Regions from separate parts of the Homo sapiens genome. Here region 2 is linked to region 1. A link means that fine-mapping ties the variant in region 1 to the expression of a gene that starts in the linked region. Tissue or cell type: sun-exposed skin. Region 1 holds a variant in brackets; the other region holds the start of a gene. All regions are shown on one strand. Distances are from middle to middle.

The links. PIP is the estimated chance that this variant, and not a neighbour inherited with it, causes the effect.
Region 2: it holds the start of PSCA, and the variant in region 1 is the best candidate, but not a certain one, in a credible set for the expression of PSCA in sun-exposed skin (GTEx, PIP 0.56).

Annotation. Positions count from the first base shown.
Region 1 is chr8:142,014,486-142,022,037 of GRCh38, reverse strand. No RefSeq gene overlaps it. Among named protein-coding and RNA genes, the nearest start is that of MIR4472-1, 160 kb to the left of the region's middle. RefSeq lists enhancers at 253-932, 933-1,614. The variant T/C (reference allele first, on the strand shown) is at 4,636.
Region 2 is chr8:142,676,163-142,683,714 of GRCh38, reverse strand. PSCA (prostate stem cell antigen) reads right to left here and starts at 3,220. Exons shown (of 3, transcript NM_005672.5): 1 at 3,152-3,220; 2 at 2,281-2,388; 3 at 990-1,794. The coding sequence starts at 3,176. The coding sequence ends at 1,583. RefSeq lists an enhancer at 1,829-2,475.

The sequences.
Region 1 (7,552 bases):
ATGGCCAGATGCAGGAGGAAGGGGCTCCGTTAGATAAATGGGCAGATGCATGAATGGATAGGGGTGTGTGTGTGTGTGTGTGTGTGTGTGTGCGCATTCATATTTGATGCTCAAAGATAAATGACAGTTGGCTGTAGCACTTTGGGACCACCAAGATGCAGAAGGTAGCTGAAGCCAGGCTAGTGTGGAGCCTTAAGAGAGCGGCTGAGGTGGACCCCTGTTCTACAGGGCCAGTTCCACTCCGCACACTTCACACTCATGCACACACATGCATACTCCCATTCACACACATGCACCCACAGACATGTGTGCACCTGCATGCCCACATGTACATACACACAATGTCCTGTGCCACTGTGGACACCTGGAATGGTTCAGCCACTACAGACTGCACCCTGGAGTCATCTGTTGAGGATCCAGCCCAGCAGCCCATGGAAGCCATTTTGGCTGGTGCTTCAGCCTCAGCCCCTCCTTTCTTCCGGGTCGCACCAGCAGAGTCCCAGTGCAGCTCATAGTGGCTGTGGGCAACCTCAGCTTCCCCTTTTGTCTTATGTCTGGGCAGGAACTGGTGGCCCAGTGGCTAAAGTCTGGTGGCCACTGCCCCCTCAAGTGCTGGGTTCTAGGGACTGTGGCGATGTGTTCGTGGATGGTAGAAGGACGTCGGTAGGCGATGCTGGGGTGGTCCCAGCACATGCCCCACTGCCCAGAAAGCACGGCGCTGCCATTGCCCCCTGGCTGCTCCTGAGGACAGATGCAAGGCCCAGACCCTTCCCTGGGGACCCCCAGGACTGAACAACCCTCTTGGGCCTCACTCCAGCCCAGCAAATGACACCTCACAGCTGAGCCATTCACCTCTGATCAAAGCCTCCTCATTTGAGTGACTGGTGGTTGATGGTCACCTTGGCGTTCAGCACAGCTGGGGGACATCAGCCCACATGGCTGTCAGGGAGGGAAGAGGGTGTGAACCCTGAGGCCGGGGCTGATTCCCCTCGCCACCTGGCCTGAGCCGGACAGGATGGCTTCTGAACAGAAAGATGAGAGGAGCTGCAGGACCTGCCATCTGTGCCCAGTCCCCAAAAGGGCTGACAGGTTTCGGGAAGGGTGCAGAGGAGCCGCAGCCCCAGGCATCCTCCTTGACAAAGATGAGCAAGAAAGGAAGTGCAGGTGCAGCAGCGGCAGCAGTGCCCGCCTGTGAGCAGCCAGCACGGGCCACGCAGGAACCCACATCAGCTGGCAAGGGCCCGGCCTCTCCTGTCCCTGGGGGAGCCAGCAGCTGGGAAAGAACCCACCAGGTGCATGGTGAGGCAGGTAATGAAGGAGCCACCAGCCCCAGTGGCTGCCAGGCAGTGATTGTTTGGCCTGGCAGGGGAGAGAGCAGCCCACAGAGGGGGTGCCCCTGGGTCAGGGAATTTGCATCTCAAAGAGGCAATGGAAAGAGCCATCAGCAGTCCCTCCTCCAGGAGAACTGCTATTCCCAGAGGAAGGCAGAGAGGAGCAGAAGCACATTCCAAGCACAGAGAATGCGGTCAGCCTGGAGCTGTGTGAGGTCAGCCTGGAGCTGTATGAGGGGTGTTTCCTGCAGCTAGCTGACCTTCCTGCGGCTGCCCTGCCTCATAGGCCAGCCCATGGTACCCCTCACCTCCCCACAGCTCCCAGGTGCTGAGCCCAGCCTTGCCCCTGGACGCCCCCTCTTCCTGTCCCAACAGTGGCTGAGGAGGCTGAGGGGTGGCGGGCTGTGCCCATGGTGAGTGTAGCTGACTGGAACCACTTTCCTCTCCTGGGCTCCCTGCCCTCCGTGGCCTCCAGGCCTCTGTCCTCTGTCCCTGCTCCCAGGAGCTCACCAAGTCTCTCTTGGGGCCCAGGTGCCAGTTGGTGCTCCCCAGAGCAGGGCTCTCCTGGCCTCTAGGGTCTTAGTGCCTCTACGTGGTGACAGTCACCGAGTCCATGTGTGAGCAGGCTGCTCACTTGGTAGCCAGCAGCTTCGATGAGACACCAAACCCCATGCCCCGGCCCCGAGGGGAGGCTCATTTAGAAACCCTCACTGAGCACTGCCCTGTGCCAGCGACTGCGCCAGGTCCTCAGAACACAAGGGTGTGGACTCCAGGCAGCAGGGCGCACTAGGGTCATCTCTGAATGCAGACGTTCCCCCGAACACGGAACTTGAGACAAGGGTTTGTACGGGAGCCCTTTGCTTCGGCAAGTGATTTCAGACGCTCAGGAATCAGGGTGCAGGCAGGGTGAGGCAGAACGAGACAGGGTGCTTGGTCCTACAAGGCTGTGGCCTCAAACAGGCCACTGTAGTGGCCACCTGGGGCTCAAGCCCACGGGATGCCCTAGGAGCCGCATGGCGTGTGCCATAGAATTGTGCACCCAGACATGGAAGACCCACCAGGCTCCACCCTCATGGGCCAACGGCTGCCCCACTCCCTTGCACATCCAGGCTATGTGCCTGAGTGCTGAGCGGGCACCCTCAGGTATCCTGGGCTGCACCCTCAGCCTCTGGGACACCAAGGGCAAGGGGGTAGTTGAGGAGTGGGCCTGCCTGCAGGGAATACTGCATGATGCTGGAGCCCAGCAGGAGGATCAGGAGCACGGCAGGGACTTTCTCGGCTCCCACGGATGCATCTCTGCCCAGCCAGCCTCAGACCAGCGCCCCTCACTCGGTTCAGTGGGTCAAAGTTCCCACCTGCTCCTCAGGCCTGAGGGAGGTGCCCAAGTCAGAGGAGGCACCAATTAGCCCAGAGAGCAGACTCCATGTTTTCCTTCCACCAGGGCCGGATGTCTGGGCTCGGAGCAGCCCCCCGATAGTGCTTTCTCCCTGAGTCTCCGAGTGCACGAGGCAACTGTGAGAGGGCTGTGGGAAAGTGCATGCTCAGGACCTCTGTGAGCATAATTGATGCGATTGCCTCTCAGACTTGCACGGTAAGTGCTTTGGAAATGCTGGCTGGAGCAGGAACTCTGGGGTGGGGAAGCCGCTCAGCTGGGAGTAGAGAACTCAGGGTGCACCCAAACTCACTTTGCCACATTTAGCAGTTTGCTCCAGCTCTCTGGCAGAAAGTTCCTGAACTGTCACCTGAATGGGGGCGTAGGGGGGTGGGGTCTTGTGATGTGAATGTCCGTGTCCCCCTGCAAATGTATGTGTTAAAACCCTAAGTCCCAGTGTGGCTGTATTTGGAGATAGGGACTCTAAGGAAGCAACTAATCCTAAATGGGGTTATCAGGGAGGGACACTGACCTTATAAGAAGAGACACCTGAGGTGCCCTCTCTCCTCCCTGCATGCGTGCACTGAGGAAGGCCACGTGAAGATGCACCCAGAAGGCGGCCGCCCATCACCCGAGGAGAGAGCCCTGCGGGTGGATGCCCTGACCTTAAACTTGCACTCACCAGAGCTGTGAGAGTTAAGTATCCACCGTTTAAGCCACCTCGTCTGTGGTATTTTGCTGTGGCAGCCCACGCTGACTATTACAGAGAGGATGGGATGTTTCTGAGCCACCGATTCTACAACTCTCTAGGGACTTTGCTTAATCGGCTGTAGCAGGGAAGGTTAATGGGAGAGGTTACTGAGTGCTGGGATGGGAATGGACATGTGAGCTCCTTCCGCTTGAGCGCCTGTGTGGGCAAGGAGCAGCCAGGGCGCTGTCCCAAGGGCCTGAGCATGGGGCTCCTGCATGAGGCAGGGTGGGGCAGAGACCCAGAGGCCACCCGAGTCAGAATCTCTAGGGAAATTCACACCCCGTGGAGAGTGAGCCCCAACAGTAGGATGGGGAGGACAAGCAGCGGGAGGGGGGACGGGGCCACAGAGTTTGGAGGACATGGGTTCAGAGCAAGCCCCAGAAGCATGAGTGACAGGGGGCTCTGGTGGTTACTATGACCCTCAGGAGATGGGGATGGGCCATGCCTGATGCTCAGGGTCACCTGGTGGGCCTGTGAGACAGTGTCAGGAAGGAGGTTGACAGCCCTCGCGAGGGCAAGAAGAGGCAGGCAGGGCCTGGGGTGGGGGCCCAGCCCATCCTTGGCACAGCAGTAGCCATGGAGGGCAGCTGGGGTGGGGACGGCCGGTGCTGGGGCAAAACAAGAGGCCCCAGATCTGAGTGGAGTGTGGGCACCTGAGGTCCCCCAGGAGCGGTGCTCAGTAGGTGTGGTTAGGGCCACTGGGAGGAAGTACCCCGGCCCCTGTCCTGGAGCGGCCTGAGGAGCAATTCTCCAGGGCACACTGAGGCACTGCCATTACCTAGACAGACGATAGTGGACCTCCTGCTGGCAGTTAAGGTCAGTGCTGGCCCCTTTCCACGTCCTGGTTCAGTGCTGCTAAGGCATTTGGGGGCAGAGGTGTGTCCAGAATCCACCCCAGGTCACCCCTGGCCTCTGAGCATGGGGCCCCTGAGCAGGGAGGCCTTCATGGAAAGTCGTGGGATGTGGGGAGAGGGACTGACCCCTTGTGCTCCACCCCCAGCTCATCCAACCCCAGTGCAGCCTGGAGACTGCCACCGTGCCCCCCGGAGGGCGATGGAGCCTCCGCTCTGCTCAGGAGCAGCCTGGCTTCCGGGAGGGCAGCCTGACTCCCACGGCACTGCCGGTGACCCCTCAGCTCAGGCCCCGGGGCTGCGAGAATCTCAAGTGTGCATTCTGTGAAG[T/C]GTGCATTCTGTGACGTGTGCATTCTGTGAGGGCTTCGTGGCTTCTTCCTGGGTGTGTGCTGTCCTGGCTCTGGTGGGGCCACTGGTTGGGCAGGTTCAGGTCTGCAGAGCCTGCCCTGGAGAGAACCCCTTCTCCGGCTCTGGGGGAGCACTCACGCTGCCACCTGTGTCCCTGTGGCGGCCCCTTGCCTGCCTGCATTTGGCTGGCCTGGCCCGACACCTTCCTGCCCCTGGCCCATGTGCCTGCTCCGAGTCCCTCCTGCCACATGGGACCCGGGCAGGCCTGGGCAGCCCCGAGGGCCAGCTGTGCCAAGCGAGGATGCCACCCTGGTTCCAGGGAGCAGCAGTGCCATCAGAGAAGGCCCTGCAGGCTGTCGGCCCCCCGGGTCACAGCAGCTTGTTCTGGCAGCCCCTCCTCCCCCGGGGCCCTTGTTCTCCTCCCTGGCTCTTGGCCTATCCTCAGGCCATGCCAGTTGCGTCTGTCCCCACGGCCAGTGCCCTTCCTGAGCCCTACACACCTCGCCCAAGAGCCTCAAGTCTTTCCATGGAAGTCTGAACCCGAAGGCAAAAGCACTTGGAGGTGGTTCCCAGAAGGCGCCTTCATGAGTGAACGGAGGGTAGGGATGGTCCCAGGTGCTCTGTCTCCCAACATCACCAACGTCCCCTCATCCCTGGGGCCCATGAGCCAGGACGCAGCCCCACCCTGGTCTGTGCCCCTCGGTCCTGGAGTAGGCTCTTGTGTCTCTGATGATTTAGGGCAGGCAAGCTTGGCTGTCAGAGCTGGGAGAGACTGTGGGGCCATTGGCCCCTGCTTTGTGAAGATGAGGAAGTGAGACCCAGGGAGAAGGGACTAATGTGTCTGATGGTCACAGAGCAAATTTTTGGCAGTGTCAACCACAGGGCCTGGTTATCCTTCTTTCTGGTGTAGTCAGAGAGGCCTGGAGGAGGACGGAGCTGCCTGCCTGGAGGCTGGACTCTGGCCATGTGCAGCCTGGGATGTGGCAGGATGGGGCAGGGGCCTCAGGGCTTGTTTTGCGCCCTGGCTAGTGGGACATGGGGCTGGGCGAGCATATGCCTGCCGCAGTGTGTGACAGCTGTCAGCTGTCCAGAGAGCCGGCGGAGACGGGCCTGGGGCTGGGAGCCTGCGCCAGTTGCCATTTAAACCTTGGCAGTCGGAGAGCCCCTCGATGCCAAAGGCCCGCGGTGAAGGAGGCGGTAGTGGTGGCGAGTGCCCACTGCCTCCCACACAGCCAGGCCCAGCACGCAGGGAGAGGCGCCCTCCCTGGACCAGCTCTCCTTGTCTGTGTGGGAACATAGGGCGGCGCTCTGAGGGCTGGGCCTGACAGAGGCAGGAGGTGGCGACTGGAGGGGTGCTTGCCGGGGAGGTGAGGCATGGATGTCCCTGAGGACGGTGCGTCCGGGCAGGCAGTGGGCAAGGCTGGCCATGCCATGTTCCCCAGCAGGCTAGAGCAGCTGGGATGCACTGGGTGCCTGAGGATGGCGCTGGATCACTCCCTGTCTCCTGATGTGTGCAGGGCAGCCGAATGGGCTTCCAGGAAGCCAACTCCAGCCCCTGCAGCAGGCCTCAGGCGGCTTCTCCCAGGCATCTTGAGCCTGGCTTCACACCCCTCCTCTAAGGCACATTCTCCTTTAATCCCAAGGTCCTGTGAAGTAGGAATGAATTCTTTCTCTTGCTTTTCCAATAACCCAACTGAGGCCCAAGAGGTGGAATGGCCTGTCCAGGGTTACACAGCAGGCGGCCTGGCCCTGGGACCAGATGCCCAGCCTCCTGACCCTCAGGCCTCCTGACTGGGGGCTCCCCGGCCTGGGAGGGAGGGCTGTGCACACTCAAGACCCTGAGTCGCCTGTGACCCCAAAACACAGACAGCAAGGGCTCCCAGTGCCTGCACTGTGGTAAAACGAGCCCAGAATGGAGGCAGAAGCACCTGGATTCCACAAGAGCTTCGCCTGGCGCTCTGCGCCGTCAGAAGCCCCTGCACCGGGGCCAGTTCTTGCCCTCGCCTGTAGACAGGAACACTGCTTCTGGCCTTCCAGCAAGAGACTCCAAAGACTTTCCCGGTGTCTCCATGTGTCCTGCTCCTCCTCAGAGGATGCCTGAGAATTCTTGAGGTGGGGAAAGAAAACACAAAGAGGACCGGGGCTGGGGGGTGTCCCTGGCCACGCCCCCCACTGCCATTTGCTGATGGGTGAGGTGCCTTTGTCAGACATCAGGATGAGGCTCCTTTGTCAGGGATCAGTACCATTTGTGATGAGCCCAGGACTGTCAGTCTCCCGTCCCAGGACAGTCTTGCAGGGGGAGCGTCCCTGATAGGAGGGTGGCGGGAGGCGGAGCATCTAGCCCTGCGGTGGTCCTAGCTTCTATCTCAACAGCCCGCCCAGCCCTGGACCCCAGCCCTGCCTATTTGCCATCCATCCACGGAAGGCTTGGGATGCCACTGTTTCAGCATGTCCTGGGGAGAGGCTGGGCAGCCCCGGGACTCTGGCAGCAGCAGGGTGTGAGCAGAGCATCGGGGAGCCGGGCACACTCGGGCTCCAAGGCCAGGCTCTCCCCTTTGCAGTTGGCCACTCGGGAAACCCACTGTGCCTGAAGCCTAAGAATTCCTACATGGCAGGGGCCTTGGAGTCAGTCGCTCACTCCCTCACCCGTTCCTTCATTGCGTGAATGAGTACGGTGCCTGGCACGGTCCTAGTTGCTGGGTTCTGATGGTGAAGCATCTGGACGTCCCTGCGGCTGACCGTTCACGGAGACACAGACAGGAGCAGGCAGCAGACGGGGCCGTGGCACCCGGGGGAGGGTGGCTCATAGCACTTGGGGGACCGAGGCTTCTCGGATCCCTGGGATGATAGCTGGGCATTAGCCAATGAGGGAGGCCAAAAGATGGGGAAGGGCCCTGGA
Region 2 (7,552 bases), 660 kb before region 1:
GTAGGCGAGGCGGGGAGGGTGTGACCAGTGCCCAGGGTCACTCAGATGCTGGCCTGGGGAGCTGCACCCTGCTGACAATGCCACCCTGGGCCCCCAGTGTTCAGGAGGGAGGTCTCCCCGTGAAGTCACATGTCAGACGGGAGGCCTGGCTCTTTCCAGCACAGCTCTGCCCACTGTCTGCTCCATGACCCACCCTCAGAGCTCCAGGCCAGGGTTCCAATCCTGGCTCGGTATGGGATGTGGGCAACAGACCCGTTCCCTTTCCTGAGCCTCTGTCTCCTCTTCTCTGAAACCGCCCCCCGAGCCCCACCCCTAACACCCTTGGAGGCCTCACCCTGAGCAGGTCCCCACCCAGGTCACAGGCTGCACCCCTAGCCCTAGGGCGGGAAGCAGGCTGTGTGCAAAAGGCTTCCCCTGAGCGCAGAAGGCAAGTGTGGATGGTGTCCTCCCACTCAGGGGCCTGGGGATGCTCACGGGGCACAGATTCTCCCAGAAAGAAGCCTCTGGAGGTGTAATGGGCACCCCAGAGAGGGAAGGCGCTGGGGTTCAGGGTTGGGGGAGGCCACCTGTCACCGGGGACCCTGCTGTAGTGTTTGAATGCTGTATGGTGGGTGTGCAGCTCTAAAACAAATTTTGAAAAATGGGGGTGCTCAAATCAGGCCAAGGGGATGGGTAGGAGCTTGAATGGTAGCAGTCCCTCCCCCCGGAACGCTCTCCTTCCTGTGAACTTTCTGGGTCCATCCTCCCAGCAAGGAGGGGTCATAGATGAGTCGCAAGGCTCAGAGAGGTCTGGCCACATGCTCCAGGCAGCACAGCAAGTGCAAGTCCTGGGAACTGCCCTCCCACCCTCTGCAGGGACGTCCTCCTTTCAGGGGCCAAGCTTTGCTCCTGTTAGGGCGGAGGCTGCAGCCCATGTGACCAGGGCCCTGGTCCAGACACAGCCCTGGATCCGGTGCCCGCCTGGGGTGTGCAAGGACAGAGGGTCTCTCTGGCTTATCCAACAGGTGTTTATTAAGGGCCTACGCTGTGCTGAGGCTGCCATTCAGGGAGCCCCACGAATGTGAGGCCTGGCCCCTTCCTCCAGGCCTCCAGGCCCCATCTCTGGAGACTCCCAGGAACTCACGTCGACTCCTGTCCTCCAGTTCTACTCAGTCCACTTCATCTCAGCCTTTACCGGGCCCTCCTGAGTGCCTGTCCCCTGCTGGGTGCGGGGGACACCACGGACCAGACCTGGCTCAAGTCATAGATGGGGTGGGCAGGGAAGGCTTCCTGGGGGAAGAGGTGCCTGAGCACAGGGTTAAGGGTGGAGAATGCTGGGCCATGGAAACAGCAGCAGAGAGGGTTGGAGGGGCCATCTGCAGGCGGATCTGTGTCAATAGAGCCGATCTGCCGGGTGGGAGTCCTGGAGAGGGCCATGGGAGGGTCAGGGTGGGGGACAGGGGCGCAGACATACATGGTCAGACTTGCGTTAGGATGTGCCTCAGGAACCAGGACAGGCTCCCACTGGGCCGGGTGTGTGAGGAGTGGCACAGAGGCCTGGGGCACCACACCCAGTGTGGGCTGCAGCGGGGCCCCCCAGAGCCTAGAGCTGGCCGGGTCCCCAGAGCAGCAGGCCGAGTGCAGGGAGCAGCGCAAGGATGGCAGCAGCCGGCTGCAGGGCATGGGCCCCGCTGGCGTTGCACAAGTCGGTGTCACAGCACGTGATGTTCTTCTTGCCCACGTAGTAGTCCTGTGAGTCATCCACGCAGTTCAAGCTGCAGCCTTTGCTGATGACGGTCAGGAGGCCAACTGCGCCTGGGGAGCAGCGGGATCCGGGGATGGGGCTGCCCTGTGTGCTCACCTGCCTGACCTGCCCCAGGCCTCCTCCTGTCCCACCCTGCCTAATGCTCTAGAGTCCCCCTGGGCTGGCCTCAGGATTGCAAGCAGTGCGAGGGCCTGGTCTCGGCCCTGGTCTCAGCCCTATCCAGATGTCCGAGGCAGATGGACCACCCGCTGAGCGTCAGAAATGGGGTGAGTGAGTAAGTGAGCTCAGGGATGGGGAGGGACAGATGGGTGGAGGAGTGGAAGATGGAGGATGGGGAGGGACAGATGAGTGGAGGAGTGGCAGATGGAGGAGGATGGCTGGAGGGACAGATGCTGGGTGATTGTTGGGGGTGCAGGTGCGGGACGGGTCGGGGACAGGTGGAAGGAAAACAGCACACAGATGCGGACAGATGGCCAGAAAGATTAATAGTTCAGTGGCAGAGACCTAGGCCTGGCGGCTGTCGTCCCCCCACTCACGGATGCGCGCGGTCCAGCACTGCTCCCCCAGCTGGGTGCAGTTCTCCACCTGCAGGCAGTCCTCGTTGCTCACCTGGGCTTTGCAGGAGTAGCACAGCAGGGCAGTGCCTGTGGGGTGGAGTGGGAGGGGCCTCAGAGGCTGCCCCATAGCACTCCCCAGGAATGGGGGCTCCCAGGCAGGTGGGCCTCCATGGCGGTGGCCTGAGGAAGTCCTCGGCGCCCTCTTGTCACCCTCAATGTCTCCTCCCCATCTTCACGGCCCCCTGCTCAGTGCCTCCGAAATGTTGCCCTGTTTAGTCCCTCGGTGGCTGCTTTTGTGACCGTGTGTTTCAGAAGAGGAAGCTGCGGCTGTGGGGGTGACTGAACCCGGGACCCTGGGTCGGGAGGGTCCCACCTCAAGCAGAGCAGCTCCCTGGGACCCTTGGAAGCTGCAGTGCTGGGACTGGGCCGGATGTAGACCCCCGGGTCCTCGCAGGACACCCCCAGCACCTCCCCCTTGTGCCCCAAAAACCACTTCTTAGCCTGAGGCTTCCTGTCCCATGTCTCCCAGCTCCTCATCAGCATCTCTGCCCATCCATCCGTCAGTCTGTCTACCTGCCCCCTAGGAGCCAGGCCCTGCCCCACGGTGGTGAAGGAGAGTGACTCCGTGCTGCCCCTGCAAGCCCCGGTCACAGGGGACGGCAGGGAACAGGTCGCTGCCTGGTCGTGCCAAGAGCTTCCCTGGAGGAGCGGAGGCTAGGGCAAGAGCCTCACCCCCTTCCTCTCCCTTCCTCCTTCCTTCCCCTCCTCTCCGTGTGCCCTGCAGGTATCCCTCTGGCCTCCCCGGCTCACCCCTGCTCCCTTCCCTGCTGGGGGCCAGCCAAGGCCTCACCTGGCTGCAGGGCCAAGCCTGCCATCAACAGGGCAAGCAGCACAGCCTTCGTGGTCACTGGTGGGCTGTGGTGGAGAGGGCCTCAGGTGACTTTATATGGCCTCAAATGGGGAGAGGCTGGACTGCCCACAGTCAACACCAGCGGGTTTCCTGGAGCCAGTGAGGGCCCCGGGGCTGGGCAGGTCCGAGTCTCCTCCCTGAGCGACCTGCACCTCCCTCTCCCTTTGTCCTTCTTTCCACCTCTGGAGGACAGAGCCTACCCAGGGCCATATCTCAGCCACCCCGGGCTGAGGGCTGAAACGTCCTCAAGACCCAGATTATGCCTCTCCCACCTCCCCCACCTCACAGTGCAAGGCCAGACAAGGGAGACCCTTTCTCCAGACTCCTCCAGGCCTCGGCCTTCCAGCCAAGGATGAGGGCACCTCCCTGGGCCCTGTGCTCCTATAGAAGCTGTGCCGCCCTCTGGGGCCCACGGCCCGCAGGGTGATGAGCCTTGGTCACAGCGTCACTGACAGATCATTAGCAGGTGCTGCAAAGGACAGGGGCAGGGGCTGTTCCGGTATAAACCAAAAGTAACATTCTAAGGCCCCCCAGCCATCTGAGTGGAACCCTCCTCTTGGCAAGGGCTTTCCGAAGTTAACCTGAAAAACTGGTTCAGGCCATGACAGCAAAGGGTTGGATAGCCTCATTATCCCTCCTCCCTTCAGAACTCTGGAACAGCCAGCGTTAACATCAACACAGGCCTTCAGTCTGATGAGAAACATTTACCATCTATTGTCTCGGAAGCCTGCTACCTGGAGGCTTCATCTGATGATAAAGCCTTGGTCTCCACAACCCCGTATAACCCAGACATTCCTTTCTATTGATAACTCTTGCAAGCGATTGCCAACCAGAAGATGTTTAAATCCACCTATAACCTGGAAGCCCCCAGTTCCAGCTGCCCACCTTTCTGGACTAAACCAATGTATATCTTCAATATATTTGATTGATGTCTCATGTCTCCCTAAAATGGGTACCATCAAGCTGTGCACTGACCACCTTGGGCACATGTTCTCAGGGTCTCCTGGGGGCTGTGTCACAGGCCATGGTCCCTCATATTTGGCTCAGAATAAATGTCTTCAAATATTTTACAGAGTTTGGCTCTTGTTGACACAGGGGACAGCCTCCCTGGGGAGGAGACCCTGTTGGACGGGCCTTCATTTATGGGGCATTCAGTGTGGGCTGAGCCCTGGGCTAGGTGCTTTACCCTCAGGACCTTGAGTGACCCCCTCAGCTTGGAACTTTAGCTGCAAACGAGTCGGGGAAGTGCAGCTTTTAGCAGCCTCTGCAGTAGCAGGAGGCAGCGGCTAGGCCCAGGGCTGTATGGCCTCTGTTTGCCCCAGATCCCCTCTCCGTCCTGCTCCATGTCCTGGGAGGCTGGTCCAGCTCCCACAGGCAGGAGATGAGAGAGTGGAAGAGGCAAGTTCAGGCCAGCTCTCCTGCCAGTCAGCTGGGAGGTGGTGGCAGTGGCTATGGCCCTCTAGAGCAGGCCCAGCCCGCTGGGCGGTGGTGGCAGTGGCTATGGCCCTCTAGAGCAGGCCCAAGCTCTCATGCCAGTCAGCTGGGCGGTGGGTGGTGGCAGCGGCTATGGCCCTCTAGAGCAGGCCCAGGCTCTCATGCCAGCTGGCTAAGTGTTGGTGGCAGTAGCTATGGTCCTCTAGTACAGGCCTAGGCTCTCCTGCCAGCCGGCTGAGTGTTGGTGGCAGTAGCTATGGTCCTCTAGAGCAGGCCCAGGCTCTCCTGCCAGCCAGCTGGGTGGTGGTAGCAGTGGCTAGGACCCTCTAGAGCAGGCCCAAGCTCTGCTGCCAGTGGCTGGGTGGTGGTGGCAGTGGCTATGGCCCTCTAGAGCAGGCCCAGGCTCTCCTGCCAGTGGCTGGGTGGTGGTGGCAGTGGCTATGGCCCTCTAGAGAAGGCCCAGGTCCCGTCAGCCAGGCTTCTCCTGTCCCCCGGGTTCTGGCCAGCCTCTGGTCACTGTGCTCTCCCCCTCATCCCTGCAAGCCCGAGGGGCTGGTGGCTTCCTGCTGCTGGCTGGCTTTGAGGGGGACTTGTGGCCGCTGCTGTCTCCTTCAACCTGACCCCTGCCTTTGTACATGGACCCTGAGTTAGATAACTCTGCCTGGCAACCCTCTTGGGTATGCTGTTGTTCCTGCCGGAAGCTGGTAGGTCCACTGTGGTCCGTGGCCCTGCCTGCTGCCGAGTGTGTGTCTGGAGGGAGACCGGCCCCTTCTCCCCTGACGCTCTCTCGTCCCCGCTGATGGTTGTCCGGCCTTCATTGTTACCTCCTCTCCTCGATTTTGCCCCTGAAAAGGCTCTGGCACATTTTAGGGGGTGGTGAGGATGTTGCAGTCAGGAAAAGTCTCGGGGAATCGGACCCTCTCCCAGCAGGTCTGCACCGTCCAGGAAGGCCTGCACCGTCCAGGAAGGCTGGTAGATGTTTCTGGGGTGTTCAGGGGACATCAGCTTCCCACTGTCTCACCTTGAGTCTGGGATCAAGGTGACACTACTGATGGGGGCAGGGACGATGCAAGACCCGACCTCCCTGGGACTCAGTGGCACCAGGAATCTGCCTTTGGGCTTCCCCCGGGGCTCCAGGTCAGCCCCTGTCCTTCTGAGGTCTCTCCTGCCTGCCTCCCTGGAACCCACTGGGTTGGGCTCTTTTCCATGGAAATTGTCTCTTCTCTGGCAAGTGAGGAGCCTGAGCCCAAGAGGGACAGGAACTTACTGGAGGCCATGCAGGGTGACTGCAGCCTCCCCCAGACTCCTTGCTTGCCCACTCTGCCCACCCAGAACTTTCCCTCTGGACACGCCCTCCAGCCCATGTCCTGTAAGCTCAGGACAAGGGGCCTCATACAGTCATGAACTGCTTCCGTGTGTGGCTGACAGCCCCTGTCCCATCCTCCCTCCGCCCCCCGCCCCAGCTCGCCCGGACTCTGGCCACTCCCGCACAAGACGTTTTCTTATCTGTCTCTGTGTTCAAGGTGCCAGCCTGGAACTTTCCGTCCTCAAATATTTATAGGTGTGTAAGTGTTTGTTGATCTGATTTGATACACAGTGATTGCTGTAAGGCAGTGGTTCTCACGTGGGTGACTCTGCACCGCCAGGGAATGTTTGGTGATGTCTGGAGGCATCTCTGCTTATTCCAGCTCAGGGGTGCTGCTGGCCTCTAGTGGGTGCAGGCCAAGGAGGGGGCAACACACAGGATCCCCACCACAGAATCCGCAGCCCCAGCATCCGCCGCACTGAGGGTGTGGCTGGTCTGAGGATGGCCCCGTGGTCATGGCTCCTATACGGAAGACCATGGCTGTGACATTCCTAGAGCCCCACCCCTGACCACAGGTTGGGTTCTGACCTCACCCCAAAACTGAGCCCTCACTGTGGTCAGTCTGAACTCTAATCCTGGTTACCTAACGAGCCCTGGTTACGGCCCCACCCTGAGCCCTGGCCCTGGCCACTGGCTGAGCCCTGATCCTGGTCACAGAATGAACCCTGACTGTGGTCACCCTCTGATTTTTGACCCTGGTCACAGGCGAATCCCTGTCCCCTGTCATTCACACTTTGGCCATACACTGAATGCAGCCCCTGAGCCTAAACTGAGCCTGGATCTTCTGGCAGTTCTCCTTTCTGGGAAGTTCTGCCACAAGGGGCATGGCTTCCTGCAGATCCTCATCCGGTGGACAGGGGCTGAGAGGCTGATGTGAGTGATAATAAAACTCCAGTCTCCCGGTCAGCTGGCTCTGTGTGAATTAAACTCTTTCTCTATTGTGATTCCCCTGTCTTGATAAATCGGCTGTATCTTGCCAGGGGTCAAAATGAACCCCCTGGGTGATCACACACTAGTGTATTTTCTTCCTTCTCTTCCTCTCTTTCTGATCCCTCCCCAGTGCCAGAATGGACTTGGTCTTTGAGAAGAGATCCAAGGTTCCCTGAGTAATGGTAGGAGCACCTGGGGGAGCCCCATGCATCTTGGGGATCAGGCCCCAGTTCCGACCCCAGTTCCATGCCAATCTCCACTCCCCACCAGCAGCACCCAAGTCCTGGGAGACCAAGTGATCCCGTCCCTGAGGTGGTAAGCAGTCACACCAGGGATGGAACCAGCCTTCCTGTCCCAGGAGACCCTGCCTTGGGAACCCCCATCCAGCGGCCCTGGGTTCTAGTCCCACCATGTGCCTGGTATGCCCCATGACTAAGCGTCCTCCACTGTGAAACATCTGACTCTAGCATGCTCAAATTCCTGACCCACAGAATCATGTACAATAACAACAGTTAGTGTGGCTTCAGTGTGACTCACCCTTGGCCTCCTTCCTCTTCTCTGCCAGTTGCCTCCAGGGACTCCAGATTTTCCTGTTTGCTCTTGGCCTTCTG